Linked DNA regions of Homo sapiens: all the other regions are linked to region 1. Evidence: fine-mapped expression QTL. A gene starts in region 1. Each other region holds a variant in brackets. All regions are shown on one strand. Distances are from middle to middle. Region 1 holds the start of TRPC6 (transient receptor potential cation channel subfamily C member 6). Region 2 overlaps ANGPTL5 (angiopoietin like 5). Region 3 has its middle 96 kb from the start of PGR. Region 4 overlaps TRPC6 (transient receptor potential cation channel subfamily C member 6).

What was found. PIP is the estimated chance that this variant, and not a neighbour inherited with it, causes the effect. A credible set is the group of variants that fine-mapping cannot tell apart.
Region 2: its variant is the best candidate, but not a certain one, in a credible set for the expression of TRPC6 in subcutaneous fat (GTEx, PIP 0.53).
Region 3: its variant is the best candidate, but not a certain one, in a credible set for the expression of TRPC6 in blood mononuclear cells (TOPMed, PIP 0.86).
Region 4: its variant is the best candidate, but not a certain one, in a credible set for the expression of TRPC6 in whole blood (TOPMed, PIP 0.82).

Annotation. Positions count from the first base shown.
Region 1 is chr11:101,582,056-101,586,055 of GRCh38, forward strand. TRPC6 (transient receptor potential cation channel subfamily C member 6) reads right to left here and starts at 1,952. Exons shown (of 13, transcript NM_004621.6): 1 at 1,279-1,952. The coding sequence starts at 1,448.
Region 2 is chr11:101,894,015-101,898,239 of GRCh38, forward strand. It overlaps ANGPTL5 (angiopoietin like 5), which reads right to left. Exons shown (of 9, transcript NM_178127.5): 8 at 865-1,050. Among named protein-coding and RNA genes, the nearest start is that of CEP126, 19 kb to the right of the region's middle. The variant G/C (reference allele first, on the strand shown) is at 2,394.
Region 3 is chr11:101,223,913-101,228,137 of GRCh38, forward strand. No RefSeq gene overlaps it. Among named protein-coding and RNA genes, the nearest start is that of PGR, 96 kb to the left of the region's middle. The variant C/T (reference allele first, on the strand shown) is at 2,068.
Region 4 is chr11:101,514,915-101,519,139 of GRCh38, forward strand. The region is part of intron 1 of TRPC6 (transient receptor potential cation channel subfamily C member 6); the gene reads right to left. Among named protein-coding and RNA genes, the nearest start is that of MIR3920, 2.9 kb to the right of the region's middle. The variant C/G (reference allele first, on the strand shown) is at 2,167.

The DNA.
Region 1 (4,000 bases):
TACAAGTTAAATGGGGGAATTACGTGGTATGGGAATTATGTCTTGAACTTTTAAAAAGAAAAACATATACATAATTGTAAATGCTCTTAACTTGCACAGCACACAGATGAATGAAACCAGTTCTAACTATTCTCCTTTATCTTTGAGAAAAGTTAGATGCTCCCTTTACTGCGGCTCACCTCTTACTTCGAAAGGGCACCGCAGCAGGGCTTGAGGCTGGGCAGCCCTGACACAGCACCCATCTATCAGGAGGGTCTGCCAGGCGCCTATGGGGTGGAATCCTCCCTCCAACTAAAGCTGTTTATAGAGCTGAGAACCTCGGGAAACCGCTTGCGGGTGGATGTGACAAGTCAGGAAACTTGACTACCCAATCACCCAAAGGGGCAATGGGACAGAAATGCTATCTGCCCGCTGCACATGTGGTCACAGCGGTGTCGGGGAAGCGGAGTCTTTTCTTCTGGAGTCCACTCTGCTTACTCCCTACCTCCCCTCCCGCCACCCACCCAGCTAAAAAAAAAAATACCCTAGATTCATAAACAAAAGCTTGCAGTTACCCACAGCCCAATACAAACGACCCGACGCCCTCACTTCTATAGCCCGTGAGTCTCCCAGCCCCTAACAGGCTCGTCTCCCCAGACGCCCCGGGTGAAAAGGTTCGCGCCGCCGGTGGAGAGTCCTATTGGTTCTATTTCTGTCTTCACTCCAAGGCCCCAGGACCGGGGAGAGGTCCTGGTCTAACTTTGGCTGTCCCACGGTCCAAGGACCTCAGCGCTCAGCCCGAAACGCTAAGCCAAGCGTGGAGACCGCCGGGCGCACCCAGCACCCAGGCAGCTCCAACCCTTGGAGTTCTAGTCATCTCTCCCCCACATAGGCTAAGAGTCACCCGGGCGCACATCTGAATCAGCCCCCTGTTCAGATCCCGCCTGTTACGTAGCGATCCTGTCTCTTGTAGAGCGCAGGATGAAGGGGTCTGGAGAAATCGACCACCCATCTAATCACCTGCAATGGTGGTGTTACTATGCGGTCTCACTCTCGTGGGCAAACATATCCATGCGTACCTACGAGGAGCAAACCTAGACAACCCCGCCTCCCCCACTCCCCGCGCGCCCCTCCACTCACTCAGGTCCCAGCCCTGGCTCTCGCGGACCTCCCAGCACCGTCCTAGGAGGTACACACGCGGGTTCAGGACGCGCGCGGACGGACTCGGCCACTCCTGCGAGCGCACAACCTCCCTCCGCGCAGCCCGCGCCCGATCCGCCCCGCGTCGCCGGCACTCACAAGCAGGGGTAGTAGCCGTAGCAAGGCAGCGGGGCTTGCGGGCAGCCGTCTTCTCCCAGCTCCGAGTCCATGAGCAGATAGTCCTGGCTCTCGTTGCGCCGCGCAGCGGCTCCGGCAGCGCCCCGGGGAGAACTGCCCCTCCGGGGCCCGAACGCCGGGCTCTGGCTCATGGCGGGAACGCCCGACTGGCCTGGGCCCCGCTCCCGGGGGAGCCGAGTGGGCAGTTCCAGCGGGGACCCGGTGCGGAGGGTTCGCGTCAGCGGCCGAACTGGACCTGGGCAGACCGGTGCCCAGGGGACGACGGTGAAGCAGGGGGTGCAGACGCCCGCCGCAAGTGGCTCGCCCACTGGCCCGGGGAAAAGTCACCACTTAAGGGGGTGCAAAGAGGATCTTGACCTGAGCAGGTCAGGCCGAGGAGACCCCGCGAGGATGCGTCTGGGGCGCCCGGGCAGAGAGGGCACAGGCGGGGCCGCTGGTGGTAGCGAAGCGTAAGAGCGGAGAGCAAGGGAGACGGAGCTGAAGAGTTACTATGTCAACAGAGACTCTCCAGCCCTCAGCTCCCGCCTTCATCCCCCGCACTCTCCGTCAAGATCCCCACCTTTAAAGGGATCCGAGCGACGTTCTAGAAAGCAGCCAAAGCCTGTCCTGTAGCCACAACTTTCAGGAGGCGGTATGAGCCTGAACTAGGAGGAGCCAGGCACGCACTCTTTTTTTCCCCTCCACTATTTAGTTGGCTCATTTAGTAAGGATACCAACTGCGGACTTCGTAGGAAGCTTCCTTTAAGAACCACTCTCAAAGAGCCAAGGAAACCTGTTCCTTAAAAGGGACACGAGCCTCTTCTTTCTCCAGACTGCCTTCATTTTCTTTGGTCATTTTCTCTCTTACCCTCAACTCATAAAGTTATTATGACTCTGCTTTAAAAATGAACAACGTTCTATGTTCCAAACGCCAGATGTTCCCAGTTCCTGAGAAAACCAACAAAAATAGGCAAGCATTTTCCAATGATACCGATAAAGAGGCCAACAACCTGCTTACTTCAGAGAAAAAATTTTCCTTCCGTCACTGCGAATGCAAGAATGATTTCTCTGCCAGATGTTTCCCACGTTTCCAAGCTGTTTTATTTTTAAGACTTAGTTTTAAATTCTGATTAATATGCATACGTGTGAGAAGTAAAAACTTGTCAACAAGGATGAATCAGTATTTGTAGACCTTTAAGCAGTAGTAGCCAATTAAGAATCCATTCATTAAGTCAACAAATATTTAATGAATGCCAACTGCGTTTCAAATCATTTCAGAATTCGGAGGCAAAGAAGCAGATGAGGCACCTGTCTGCCCTCATAGAGCTTTCGTGGCAGAAAGGGGGACCAATTAAATAAGCAAATGAAAAAATATCAAGGACAAATGCTACAATGAAAATAAAACAGGTTGATGTGATGGCAGCTGGTGAATGACTACTTCAGATGAGATGGTTAAAAGAGGCCCCTCCAAGGAGGTGCTCGTTAAGTTGAGACATGCATGGCAAGCAGCCAGCCATGAAAAGATCAGAGGCCCATTGCAATTGGATGAAAGAAAGCCAGACTGAAATCTGTCTGCAAAGGTGCCTTTGCTTCCCATGAACAGGTGGACAACAAAATGAATGTTGGAAGTGTGGGAAAATGCAATTGATTTGATAGAAGGGAAAAGAGCTCACACATTTAGAAACTTCTGAGTTTGCCTTTAAATTTAGAACTGAAACTCAGAGAGAGCAGAAACCACTGTGTCCTGAGGATCCAGCTTCGTATTTGACACAGGTGTGTAGGGTGCATGCATGCATGCTTGGGTGGGTGAGTGGGTGGGTGGGTGGATGGATGGATGGATGGACGGATGGATGGATGGATGGATGGAAGGAATATAGAAAAAATAAGAAAATGCTCTTGGCCCTGGAAAGAACATTTTCCCTGGGGAAACAAACAACCTGCATCATTCTGAAGTCTGTTCTTTCTGATTTAACAGCCTTCCTTTTTGATCTTTCAACATGTGGAGCCATGATTTAAAATTCTTATAATTTTCTAGTTACTATACCTAGCAATAAGATATTCTTCCTAAAATTTGTTTGTGGCAACTGCTATCTGTAAGTATTCATTAGCTTTGATGCTTGAATGAATTAATCAATAAACGTTTAGTTAAACAGTGCCAAGGTAATCTCTTTGGCAACACCAAGTATGGGGAAAACATTCATGGGAAAAGTAATATTCAAAGGTTTTCTACCCAATTCAAATTCTGTGAGTTAAAGCCAAATTAATAAACATTTGTAGTGTCAGTTGAAGTGTTAACCTTTCACATAAAAAGAAAAAAAACAAAAACTGAGACAGAATTTATTTTGCTGTTGTTACACTGTTTTTCATTCACAGGTAACAACCTTCACACTGAAAAAATTACTACAGTAAACTTATTCTGACATCAATTTATCATGTGGTAAGACATGTTTTCCTCTGTTTTTTTTTTTTTTTTTGAATTATTGTGAGTACTAGAACAACAAGCCCAGTCATTTATTGAGTACCCAGAAGGAATAAGGTGGTGTACAAATGTTAGAAGATTCTGAAAGAGCTTATGACATGATGAAGTGGAATCATTAGATCAGAAGTCTCAAAGCCTGGATTTTTATTTCGGCCACTTCCCTAACTGAAGTTACATGATTTCAGAGAGGTCATTAAATCTCTCTCTGCCTCAGTTTTTTCATCA
Region 2 (4,225 bases), 310 kb after region 1:
AAAAGCTTCCCATGTTGAATCTAACATTAACAGCTTGTTAAAAATTGCTTTTCCATGAATATTTTTTGGGTGCAATCAACTGAAATCATTCTCACCCTCTTTCTGACCCCAAAAGTTCTATCAGTATTCTGTATTTCCAGTGTTACTTATCTTCCCCTTTATATTGGGAGCAGTTAAAGACCTGGGAACATATATCATTTATTTTTTGATTTCTAACACTAAATATACATAATGAACAAGTACCACAAACAGCAACAAGGGAGTTGAATTTAGTGCTTTTTAACTCAAATGCCTTTACATTTTCAGCATTAAAATGCAAGTTTAACATCAAGTATTTTGAAGTTCTGACAAATTAAATTTATTTGGAAATGAGCAGATGCATCAAAGTATAATGAAAAAACACTAAACTTGTTGTTCTGTCAGCCTGGATTCTTGCCTTGGCTCAGGTGACGTGATCTGGGAACGTTGGGCAAGTCACTTTATCACTCAGGTTTTTTCACCTGTAAAGTGAGATGACTAGAGATCATCTCTAACAGTCTGTCACTTCTAAATGTCAGCCTCTCTGAACATGAAAATGAAAATGCCTTCACAGCCTACTCCACAGGCTCTCTATCCAAAGAATCAACTGAGATTACATAAGGCAAATTGTTTTAGAGACTATAAAGCACTTCAGAAGCATGAGGTAGTACAATGATCATAACAAAGTTTCAAAACTCAAGACTTGGCCAGCTTTCTTATTCCTAATCTATCCTGTTATCAGTTATGTGTTATATACAAAGACAAATGCATTATTTTTATCTTCACTTAATAATGAGTCAGTTATAATTTAGATCTGGATAATTTTAGGAATAAAAAAAATCTTACCAGCATTTCCTGAATACCGTCCTAAGTGCATTTTAAAAAATCTCGTTTCATCCTCTAGCCAAAAATTATCATATGATGCATAAGCAAGAGTGTCATCTTCAGATTCCAAAGCCACATACAGCATAAAACTGGTATTTTTCTGATTTACTATATAAAAAATCTTTTTCAGTCCTAGCCAAAATTCTCCTGTAAAAAAAATGCTTTGTTTTAATATATTTTAATACAAATTAGAATAATGGTTTATTATTGAATGTTTGGTCTTGTTTAGCATTTCAAAAACTCTGAGATGGCTCAGATAAGTAATTAAAGGCACTGGATGACCTAGCTCAAATTATCAGTGCTTACCTACTTCATAAAACAAACAAAATTCCTACTTCTACTTCACCAGACTTGAGAAAATCAGACCCTTTTTCATTTTTATCTCCCCAAATTAAGTAAAATTTGAGGAGAGAAGATAATAATGATCTCCCCAAATTTTATCTCCCAAAATTAAATTAGTCTTCATTTAAAGAATAAAATAGAAAGTCAAATTTTACCTTAAGGCATTTCAACATAAAACCAATTGAAATATTATGGCAGGTAACAAAACGTTATTTACCAGTAAATGAGAAGGTTTAACCTCCAAATCAGCGGTTCCTGAAGAAAAATTTCCTAAAAACACTCAGTTGAAATTATTTTTTTCTGTCTTGGAATACTTTCTTAACAGACACTTCTTTGCTACAATGCAGCTGGTTAATTTCCTATGCCCTGAACATAATGTAATAACATTGGAATATCCCCGGGTTTAGGATCAATATTTCCAAGACAATTATAGATTCAGGATGAAATATAAAACTCCCCAACTCGGACTGCATACTTCTTGCATACATATTCTAGCCAATGGCTTTCTACCTCTCCCTACCCACGTGGCATAGCCCAAATGTGTATATCTCTGCTCTGAGATATATGCCTCTACTTGAATCATAAAATTATTAAAGAAAATAAGGGTCCAGTCAAAACAAACTTCAGAGTTGGAGAATAACATGACAGCATTCAAACTCTTCAAATTATAGCTAAGATATTAAGTCTTTCTTCAGAGCTCACAGGGGCAGACATTTTAGCAACACGCTCACTTACAATCGAAAAGTAAGGAGAGAAAGTGGGCCCAGTAAAATGGCTCCAGAGGGGTCCACTGAGTCTCACACAGTATACAACACTTCAATTTAAGTGCCCCTGCCATCATTTCCCAGTACCCCACCCTCAAATTTAAGACTTAAAAATACATTTTCTGTAATCCTATATTTATTTATTTATTTATTTATTTATTTATTTATTTATTTATTTATTGAGAGTCTAACTCTGTCACCCAGGCTACGGTGCAGTAGTGCGATCTCGGCTCACTGCAACTTCCGCCTCCCCCCAGTTCAAGCGATTCTCATGCCTCAGCCTCCCAAGTAGCTGGGATTACAGAGGCATGCACCACCACCCCCAGCTAATTTTTGTGTTTATTTTTTATTATACTTAAGTTCTGGGACACATGTGCAAAATGT[G/C]CAGGTTTGTTACACAGATATACATGTGGCATGGTGATTCGCTGCACCCATGAACTCGTTATCTACATTAGGTATTTCTTCTAATGCTATCCCTCCTCTAGCCCCCACCCCCTGACAGGCTCCTGTGTGTGATGTTCCCCTCCTTGTGTCCATGTGTTCTCATTGTTCAACTCCTACTTATGAGTGAGAATATGCAGTGTTTGGTTTTCTGTTCCTGTGTTAGTTTGCTGAGAATGACGGTTTCTAGCTTCATCCATGTCCCTGCAAAGGACATGAACTCATTCTTTTTATGGCTGCATAGTATTCCATGGTGTATATGTGCCACATTTTCCTTATCCAGTCTATCATTGATGGGCATTTGGGTTGGTGCCAAGTCTTTGCTGTTGTGAATAGTGCTGCAATACACGTACATGTACATGTGTCTTTATAGTAGAATGATTTATAATCCTTTGGGTATATACCCAGTAATGGGATTGCTGGGTCAAATGGTATTTCTAGTTCTAGATCCTTGAGGAATCACCACACTGTCTTCAACAATGGTTGAACTAATTTACACTCCCACCAACAGTGTAAAAGCGTTCCTATTTCTCCACATCCTCTCCAGCATCTGTTGTTTCCTGACTTTTTACTTATCACCATTCTAACTGGTGTGAGATGGTATCTCCTTGTGGTTTTGATTTGCATTTCTCTAATGACCAGTGATGACAAGCTTTTTTTCATATGTGGTTGGCCGCTTAAATGTCGTCTTTTGAAAAGTGTCTGTTCATATCCTTTGCCCACTTTTTGATGGGCTTGTTTGTTTTTTTCTTGTAAATTTGTTTAAGTTATTTGTAGATTCTGGATATTAGCCCTTTGCCAGAAGGATAGATTGCGAAAATTTTCTCCCACTCTGCAGGTTGCCTATTCACTCTGATGATAGTTTCTTTTGCTGTGCAGGAGCTCTTTAGTTTAATCAGATCCCATTTGTCAATTTTGGCTTTTGTTCAAATTGCTTTTGTTGTTTCAGTCATGAAGTCTTTGCCCATGCCTATGTCCTGAATGGAATTGCCTAGGTTTTCTTCTAGGGATTTTATGGTTTTAGGTCTTACGTTTAAATCTTTAATCTATCTTGAATTAATTTTTGTATAAGGTAAAAGAAAGGGATCCAGTTTCAGTTTTCCGCATATGGCTAGCCAGTTTTCCCAGCACCATTTATTAAAAAGGGAATCCTTTCCCCATTGCTTTTTTTGTCAGGTTTGTCAAAGATCAGATGGTTGTAGATTTGTGGTGTTATTTCTGAGGCCTCTGTTCTATTCCATTGGTCCATATATCTGTTTTGGTACCAGTATCAAGCTGTTTTGGTTACTGTAGCCTTGTAGTATAGTTTGAAGTCAGGTAGCATGATGCCTCCAGCTTTGTTCTTTTTGCTTAGGATTGTCTTGACTATACAGGCTCTTTTTTGGTTCCATATGGAATTTAAAGTAGTTTTTTCTAATTATGTGAAGAAAGTCAATGGTAGCTTGATGGGAATAGCATTGAATCTATAAATTACTCTGGGCAGGCACAGTGGCTCATGTCTGTAATCCCAGCACTTTGGGAGGCCGAGGCAGGTGGATCACCTGAGGTCAGAAGTTCAAGATCAGCCTGATCAACATGGTGAAACCCCATCTCTATTAAATTACAAAAATTAGCTGGGCATGGAGGCAGGCACCTGTAATCCCAACTACTCGGGAGGCTGAGGCAGGAGAATCGCTTGAACCCAGCAGGCAGAGGTTGCAGTGAGCCAAGATCACGCCATTGCTCTCCAGCCTGGGCAACACGAGTGAAACTTCGTCTCAAAAAAAAAAATTACT
Region 3 (4,225 bases), 360 kb before region 1:
GATGTGTCCCTGTGTTGACTTCTATGCATGTACTGGAAAAGATGACTTTTCTCTTTAATTGAATAGGCTTCATATCAAAAGAGCTATTTGCATAAATGAGCATTGCTGTGTTGGTTTGATGGAGTATATTGGCCTTGGTTCTAGATGCAGTAGTGTAACTCTCCATGTAGTTTCTTTAGCTGTAATCCACACTGGTAACATTTGTAAGTTTATCATCAGCTTAGACTGACAGAATTTGTGGTGTGGCTCTCCAGGAATGGGCTTGCCAGGCTATTTCTCAGGTCAGGGTCATTTTTACGCACATGGTGGTTTGGCTGACTTCATATCTGGCTCACTGGGGTTGGGGCCATAGGGCTGTTACTCTGGCCAGGAGCATGGGCATGTGGTTGCTTGGTTGGTTTGGGAATGTGTTTGTCAGAGGCAGCCCACAAGATTGTTTCTCAGGCCTGGGATGGGGCACAAGGCTACTTGGCTGGCTTGGGGATGTGCTTACCAGAGGCATCCTGACAGGCTGTTTTTTAGTTCTGCTATGTGGGCACATAGCTACTGGGCTGGCCCAGTATGGCACATATCTGCTTGGGGTGACCCATGGGGCTGTTTCTCAGGCTCAGGACACAGCGGCATGACTGCCCAGTTGACCTGGGGATATGTTTGCTTGGGGTGGCCCACACGGGTGTTTCTCAGGCTCAGGATGTGGTCATATGGCTTTTTGGCTGGTCTAGGGACATTTCTGCTCGGTATGGCCCACAGGGTTATTTCTTAAGTCTAGGATGTGGGTGCACAGCTGCTAGGTTGGGGAACAGACATCAACTCAGCCAAATCATAGCTGATCCTGGACCCAGGCTCCTCACAGCTGGTTGTGGCATTTAGCCATCAGTATGGGCTTGGCATAATGAAAATGGAGTTACAGTACTGAGGAAGTATAGTGGCTACCAGGTCCCAGAGGAGGGTGCACTCTAGAGGTGGCTCTGGTCTCAAGATGGCACTATGCTGCAGCAGCTTGTCTCACAGGGGTTGGTGAGGGGCAGATGGTGCACACCTTGTGTGCCTAGTCTGAGGCAATGCGTCTGCATGAATTCCCAGCAGCCTTCCAATCTGGGCTCAAGGCTTGTTGAGTACTATGGAGCTTCCCCTGTAGTAAGAATGGTAGGTGTTTTCAGTGGCACTGGAGAGTGGCGGGATCATCTGCTTACCTTTTTCCTGCAACTGGAAGTCTCTCCTAACTCTGGGCCAATCTATTCCAAGTGGTGGAGACAACACAACGGAGGTGATGACCTCCTGGAATTCCAGTCACTGCAAGTGTATCTCCACTCCCCTACTGCACTCCAGTCCTCTCCCTTTGACACTCCAGTCAAATCTTAGCTGTTTATTTGTTGTTGCCTTGGTCCTTTCTTGTCACAGACATGCATGCTCAGCATCTCTAGTCAATCATCTTGCTCCAATTTTTTTATCTTTATAGCTAAAGAGCAACATAACAAGAAAATCAAAGATGCTGTGTCACTTTTCTACAAGATGTTTTAAAACATTATGTTTTGAAGCTTTTTCATTTTACATATGACTCAATTACAGTTATTACTTAGCTTTCTTTGAATGGATTTTTGAATTTGATTGCCACTAAACTAATTTTGCTTTTCAAAGTGTTTTGTTGCTATAATTATAACTTATTAGTTATATGATAAGCGACCAAGGTGCAATACAGCTACTCAAAATTCTGTACAATAATTATACCAGTTGGAAATTGTAGCTCAGGAAAGATGTACTGTTAAATGAAAATTTAGTAGTTACAAAATGCTGAGTCAAAACTAATCTTCTTCAAGGTATAAATCAACTCTCCAGATTGACATAACCAGACAAAGAGTTTAACTTTTCTTTTTAGTTTATTATAATGAGAACACAAACAGTTTGGGGAGGTATCTCTTTAAAAATTATTACCAGTATAACAAGACTTTTTGAAAACTAGTACTAAATGCCCTAAAACGAAACAAAAAGCAAAATAAAATAAAATGAACAAACAAAAGAGATAATCAAAATCAGGTGTTTTTTTTTGTTTTTTGTTTTTTTTTGAGA[C/T]GGAGTTTTGCTCTCTTGCCCAGGCTGGAGTGCAGTGGTGCGATCTCAGCTCACTGCAAGCTCCACCTCCCGGGTTCATGCCATTCTCCTGCCTCAGCCTCCCGAGTAGCTGGGTCTACAGGTGCCCGCCCTCACACCTGGCTAATTGTTTGTATTTTTAATAGAGACGGGGTTTCACCATATTAGCCAGGATGGTCTCGATCTCCTGACCTCATGATCCGCCCTCCTTGGCCTCCCAAAATGCGGGGATTACAGGCATGAGCCACCACGCCCGGCCTCAAAATCACTTTAAAAATGAAACATTTTTAAATAAAAATATAATTCAAGACAATGCAAGAAATATAATCTAGAAAAGTTATATAATGATGAGTCTTCTATTTCCACTTAAATGTATGAGAGGGCTGTCCCTGTGATGTATAGACTGAGGAGGCAATTGCTTCTGGAGCATAAGTTAAGAGGCACATCTTACTCCTACTCCTGAATATCTCTGGTTCAATGAGCTGAAATTCTGATCTTTAAATTTCTGCTTCTAGAAGTAAGGTTAATTCTGAAGGCATTCCTCCTACAAATTAACTAGATCCTAAATAAAACATGCATTTTTCTAATGCATTGCTAGACTCAAGGGAGTTAAGAAAATCTCCAAGAATCACCTCCTAAATAAACACATATTATGCAAATTGATACGTGAGTTTAGGCTAGAGTAGGACCACTGAGCGGTAACTGCAGAACAAGCTGGAAAAGTGAAGTTGCCTAAAAAAAAAAGAAGTGCTGATATTAGTGTAGAAAGAAGAGACAGTGTCGTCGGTTGGTTGCAATGTGGAATCGTTAAACTGAACTCAAGTGATTCCAGATTGAGAGCAACTCCTGGCTTTTAGTAGAAGTGGTGCAAATCCTCTCTGGAAGATAACAACTTCTATTTAGACTGCAAGATTTTCATAGATTAAGCTCAAGCAAATTTAGCTCAAAATAAAGATCAACAAAACCACAAAAGAGATGACTGTATGACTGAAATTTAGCAAAAACAAGAGAGATTTCCCCAAGGGTTTTGGATATTGAAACTAAGAAACAGAGAACACAATATAACTAAAAATGAAGTGTCTAAAAATATAAAAAAAAACAGAATCTAAAATGCAAAAGCAGAGACCTCAGGAAATTACTAGGATCATTTTGAAAAAAATAGAAATTTTAGGTATAAAAAATAAAATTGTTTTAAAAAATCAATATTAAATAGCAGATCAGACATAGCTGAAGAAAGATGTGAACTGGAAGATAAGCCAAAATAAATCACTTAGAATATAGTACATAGAGAAGACAAAAATATAGAAGAAAGTTTTAGAAATATGAAGGAAAGAATAAGATTCAATATAAGGCAAAGGAACTGCTACAAAGTCAGAATAGAGGAAATTTAAGAGAGTGAATATTTGCAGAAATAATAGCTAAAAATAGATGAAAAATATGAATCTACACAGAGGGAACCAAACCAACGCAAATACCGTGCAGGATAAATTAGGAAAAAAGTACACCTTCACACTTTGTGATGAAACAGCATAAAACCAAGGAGAAGCTCATAAAAGCAGGCATAAAGGCCAGGCAGATCATCTATGAAGAGGTGACAACAGTGAAATGTGTAAGATAAAAGAATTGCTGAAATAAATAAAGAAAATGACTACAGACAGCAGGTAGGAGACAGAAAAAAGAAATGGTGCTCAAATATGTTGGTAAACATATAGGTAAACATTGTCTTTATAAGATACTAAAAATAGTGCTATCTTATTTATAGGTTAAAAAGGAAACAGAACTAAAGAAAAACATGTTAATTGGGAGGAGAGAGTGATAGTAAAGTGTTCTAGAACACTGCTTAATACTTTATCAACTTGTTGATGGTTTTAAACAAGATTATTCTCATTTAATGAGTTGTCTAGCCACTTTGAAAATGTAGGATGGACCCCCATACAAAATTTGGTTCAAATGTCAAGATTGATGAACACACACACACACACACACACACCCAACAGGGTATGAAGAAGTTTATTACTCATACAATAAGATTTGCTGGGGAGGCCGGGCGCAGTGGCTCACGCCTGTAATCCCAGCACTTTGGGAGGCCGAGATGGGCGGATCACGAGGTCAGGAGATCGAGACCATCCTGGCTAACACG
Region 4 (4,225 bases), 67 kb before region 1:
GAAGAACAAAGCTTTAAAGAAAGACATGCTGAGTTGGGAATCCTTACTCTGTCAGTTACTACCTGTGTCATCCCTCTGAGCCTCGGATTCCTTAACTGTAAAAATGGAAAGGGAACAGCATCAAGGATAGCAGTTACCTGTTAGGGTTACTATGAAATTGGTGATTTGTGGAATTCTGCTTAAGGTAATTCAATGCCTCATCTGTCATGGACTTTAAATCCTTCTTAATCATAATTATTCAAGACTTTCCAGTTTGAAGATGTGCTGCTTAATAAAGGAGATAGAAACTAAGAAATCATTAAATGGCTTCTCTTCCTTTAATGCCAGCTGTTACATCTGCACCATGTGTCCAAAGAACACAGTTTGACCTCGTTTGTTTTTTTTGTTCGTTTGTTTTTTCCCTTGCTGTGATGTCAACATGGCCAAATGGGCATTATGTTTTTAATCTTCGGAATACTCTGTGCTTTGTTTTGCTGCCACTATTCTTGAAGTGTATTCTATTCTTATACCTTCATCTGTGACTATATATTTCCCTTTCCCTTCTTACCTATATTCTTTAAACCTGAACTTATCATTGAATTCCTGTGCCAAGCACAGAGCCAGACACAAAATGTTTTATGCATCTACAAATGAATAAAAAAGCAACATGAAAAGAAAAACGAATGGAGAGCACCCTAGTTTGTCACAGTTTTTAGGAGTTTCTCAAATTATTTTACTCCATTTCAAGAAACTTTTTAAAAATTAGAATTTCACAGTATTTTAAACAAATTTTTACTTGTCATAAAGTGAAATGTACTTATCCACCCTAAGTAAAAATGAAATATAGCAATTTGATGGAGTTTGATTTTGAGTATACTAATCATGTCAAGTAAATTATAAGTTTACTATATATTTAGCCCTGTTTCTCTAGCTTTATCAATAAAAATATTATATAAACTTGTAGGTACACATATATTAAATTAATTTCACTAAGGCTAGGAGGATGGAAATTGATATTTATTAAAAGTTTTTACTATGACCAAATAACTTTATAGGTGTTATTTTATTTAATTTTCACGGCATTTGGTGAGGTTGGCTTTGTTATTTCACTACATGAGGAAATGTTTGGAGATCACTCCTGAACAGGCATGGCATATATAAGGAAAAATGTTTGGGGGCTTTTGTTTTCTGAATTTCTTTTAAAATGCAGCTGGGAAAAAAAAAAAAAAGCAGAGTTTCAATATCCCCTCCCCAAAAACTGTGAAAATTTGTGGATTTCAACAATACCTAGGATTAGTTATGAACTGATTGATACATAGAAACTTCCCTCTTAAGTTCATGCTAGCAATGCATGGTAAGGCAAGACTGTAAACCTAGGTTTGCAGATGTCCTATTTCATTTCTTAAATCTTATTTTTTATTATTGTGACGCACACATGCTGAAAAGAACTACAATTTTAAGATTAATAACAAAATTAACACCATTTTCCTACCCATCCCCACTTAAGAATGTGATCGCTGATCATTTTAAAGACCTCTGTGTGCCTATTTAAATTACTATCTTCCCCTGAACCCCAACGACCAACCATTATCTGGTTTTTATGTTAAGCACTCTCTTATTTTTTATAGCTTTTCCATCTTTGCATGCCCTAAACAATACAAATTAGCTCAAAAAAAGTAAGTACTTAGCACAAACTTGGTAGAATAAGGAAGGGAAATACTGCCACTGCTATATTCTTAGAGGAAGGCTCCTAACATGAGATAAGCAGAGCAGAACCTGTGGTTCATTATCTGGCTCCAGCTTCCCTGAGAGTTTGCAAGAGCCCCTGTAGGTTGCTCAGGGGGTGACCATGAATTTCATCCTGGGAACGCAGGGTTCCTCAGAGCTGCAGCAGCTAGCCGAGTAGCCAGCAGGGCATCTGGCCATGCATCTGCTGCTGTCTACTCTCTTCTCTGCTATAAAAGAGCAGGTCAGAACACATTACCTCAGAGGCGAGAGAGGGCTCACCCTCACTGAACTCTTCCACATTGCCTTTAGGAGTAAGGCTGTCAATCAAGGTTTTTTGCCATGTTTCCCCTTTTGCCCACATTTTTTTAAAACCAATTTTACAAAAGCAAAACACTGAACTACGCTGAAAGCTACATAATATGAACAGCCAGTAGCTGGAAAGCTACCCATTATGTTGAA[C/G]CAGAATGGAATTTGTCTATATCCATTTGCAGCTGTATTCAGTTTTCAGAGATGTGATCAATGTGCCTCTACTTACAATAGTATGTTCAAGCTATAAAAGTTATATGACTTCCCTAAAGGAAGGTGAAAAGGAAAACAAATTCAGTCAAACTAGTGAAGCCATTGCTTTGGTACACCATAAAGCAAATCTAGTTGACTAAAGCCCTGGTGTTTTGGTATAACATGAAAGAAAAGTTCTATTTTCCACGGACAAATTATTCTTATCTTACCCTTTTTCTCTTATGCTAAGAATGCTTGTTTTCAGTCTTTACAGATATAACTCAAACCATTTTTACTAATTGTCTTTTTATTCCTATGCTAGTAAATTTAAATTTGAGAACTCTGCCGAAGGCTCATGTTTCCTCTATGTATCCTACTCGGTGATTCTTTATTACTGCCATTAGTCACTGACTGAATGCTAGTTATTTAAGTGTTTGCATGCATGGAATACATTTCTGCATTACTTCCACTTTACCCACCAAAGTAATAATGATAGAACCACAAGTTTTAAGTTCCAGAAGGGTATTTAAAATTGTTTCAACCTTATCACTTTTCAAGTAACTGCTTTAAGTTTTTCTAGAGGAGGGAATATATAAAAATTATTAATTATATAGTTAATTTCTACCTGAAGAAACCAAGATACAAACTAACTTGCCCAATGTTAAACAGCTACTTAGAACCCTCAGCTGTTAGATCATTTTTATTCCAAAATGCTATTACCTAAAAACAAATGTTATTGAAAGGAAATTAGTTTCTGGTCCTGTTAAGGAGAATTTTCTTATGATGAAGATCCAGTTCAATAAACAACATATTGTTCTCTAGATATTCCCATAGCTGGTGTTAAATTTGTTCCCATTTATACTGTGGCCAATGAAAGCAGAAGAATTGGCCTAGATTAAAAAGTTGTTTGAGTCAATAATCCTCAGATCTTAGCTGGAGCTCAGAGTTGTGATATACTGGTATATCTGCTCATGAGATGTTATTGTGGAACTTAATCAATAGAATCAGCCAGATTTTTGCCACCATTTCAGTTGAAAGAAAAGCATCATTTGCCCTCTTTGGTCTTCTGTTTCCTTGCTTTTAAAGTAATCTCTCTTCTGCACAGCAAAGGACACAATCAATAAAGTAAAGAGACAACCCACAGAATCGAAGAAAATATTTGCAAACTGCCCCTCTGACAAGGGATTAATAACCAGAATATATAAAGTGCTCAAACAACCATACAGGAAAAAAAATTAATAATCTAATCGAAAAATAGGCATAATATTTGAATAGAAATTTCTCAAAAGAAGACATACAAATTGCAAACAGAAATATGAAAAGATGCTTAACATCATTGATCATCAGAGAAATGCCAATCAATACTACAATGAGATGTCATCTCACCCAAGTTAAAATGAATTATATCCAAAAGACAGGCAATAACAAATGCTGGTGAGGATGTGAAGAAAAGGAAACCCTTGTACAGTGTTGGTGGGAATGTAAATTGGTACTATGAAGAATAGTTTGGAGGTTCCTCAAAAAACTAAAAATTGAGCTGCCATATGATCCAGCAATCCCACTGCTGGGTATATACACAAAAGAAAGGAAATCAGTATATCAAAGAGGTAGCTGCACTCCCATGTTTGTTGCAGCACTGCTTACAACAGCTAAGATTTGGAAGCAACCTAAGTGTCCATCAACAAATGAATGGATGAAGAAAATGTGGTACTTATACGCAATGGAGGACTAGTTAGCCATAAAAAAGAATGAGATCCAGGCATTTGCAACAACATGGATGGAAGTGGAGATCATTATGTTAAGTGAAATAAGCCAGGTACGGAAAGACAAGCTTTGCATGTTCTCACTCATCTGTGGGAGCTAAAAATTAAAACAATTGAATTCATGGACACAGAGAGTAGAAGAATGGTTACCAGAGGCTGGGAAGGGTACTGAAGGTTTGGGACGAGTTGGGGATGGTTAAGGGTACAAAAAAGAAGAAAGAATGAGTAAGACCTACTATTTGATAGCACAATAGGTT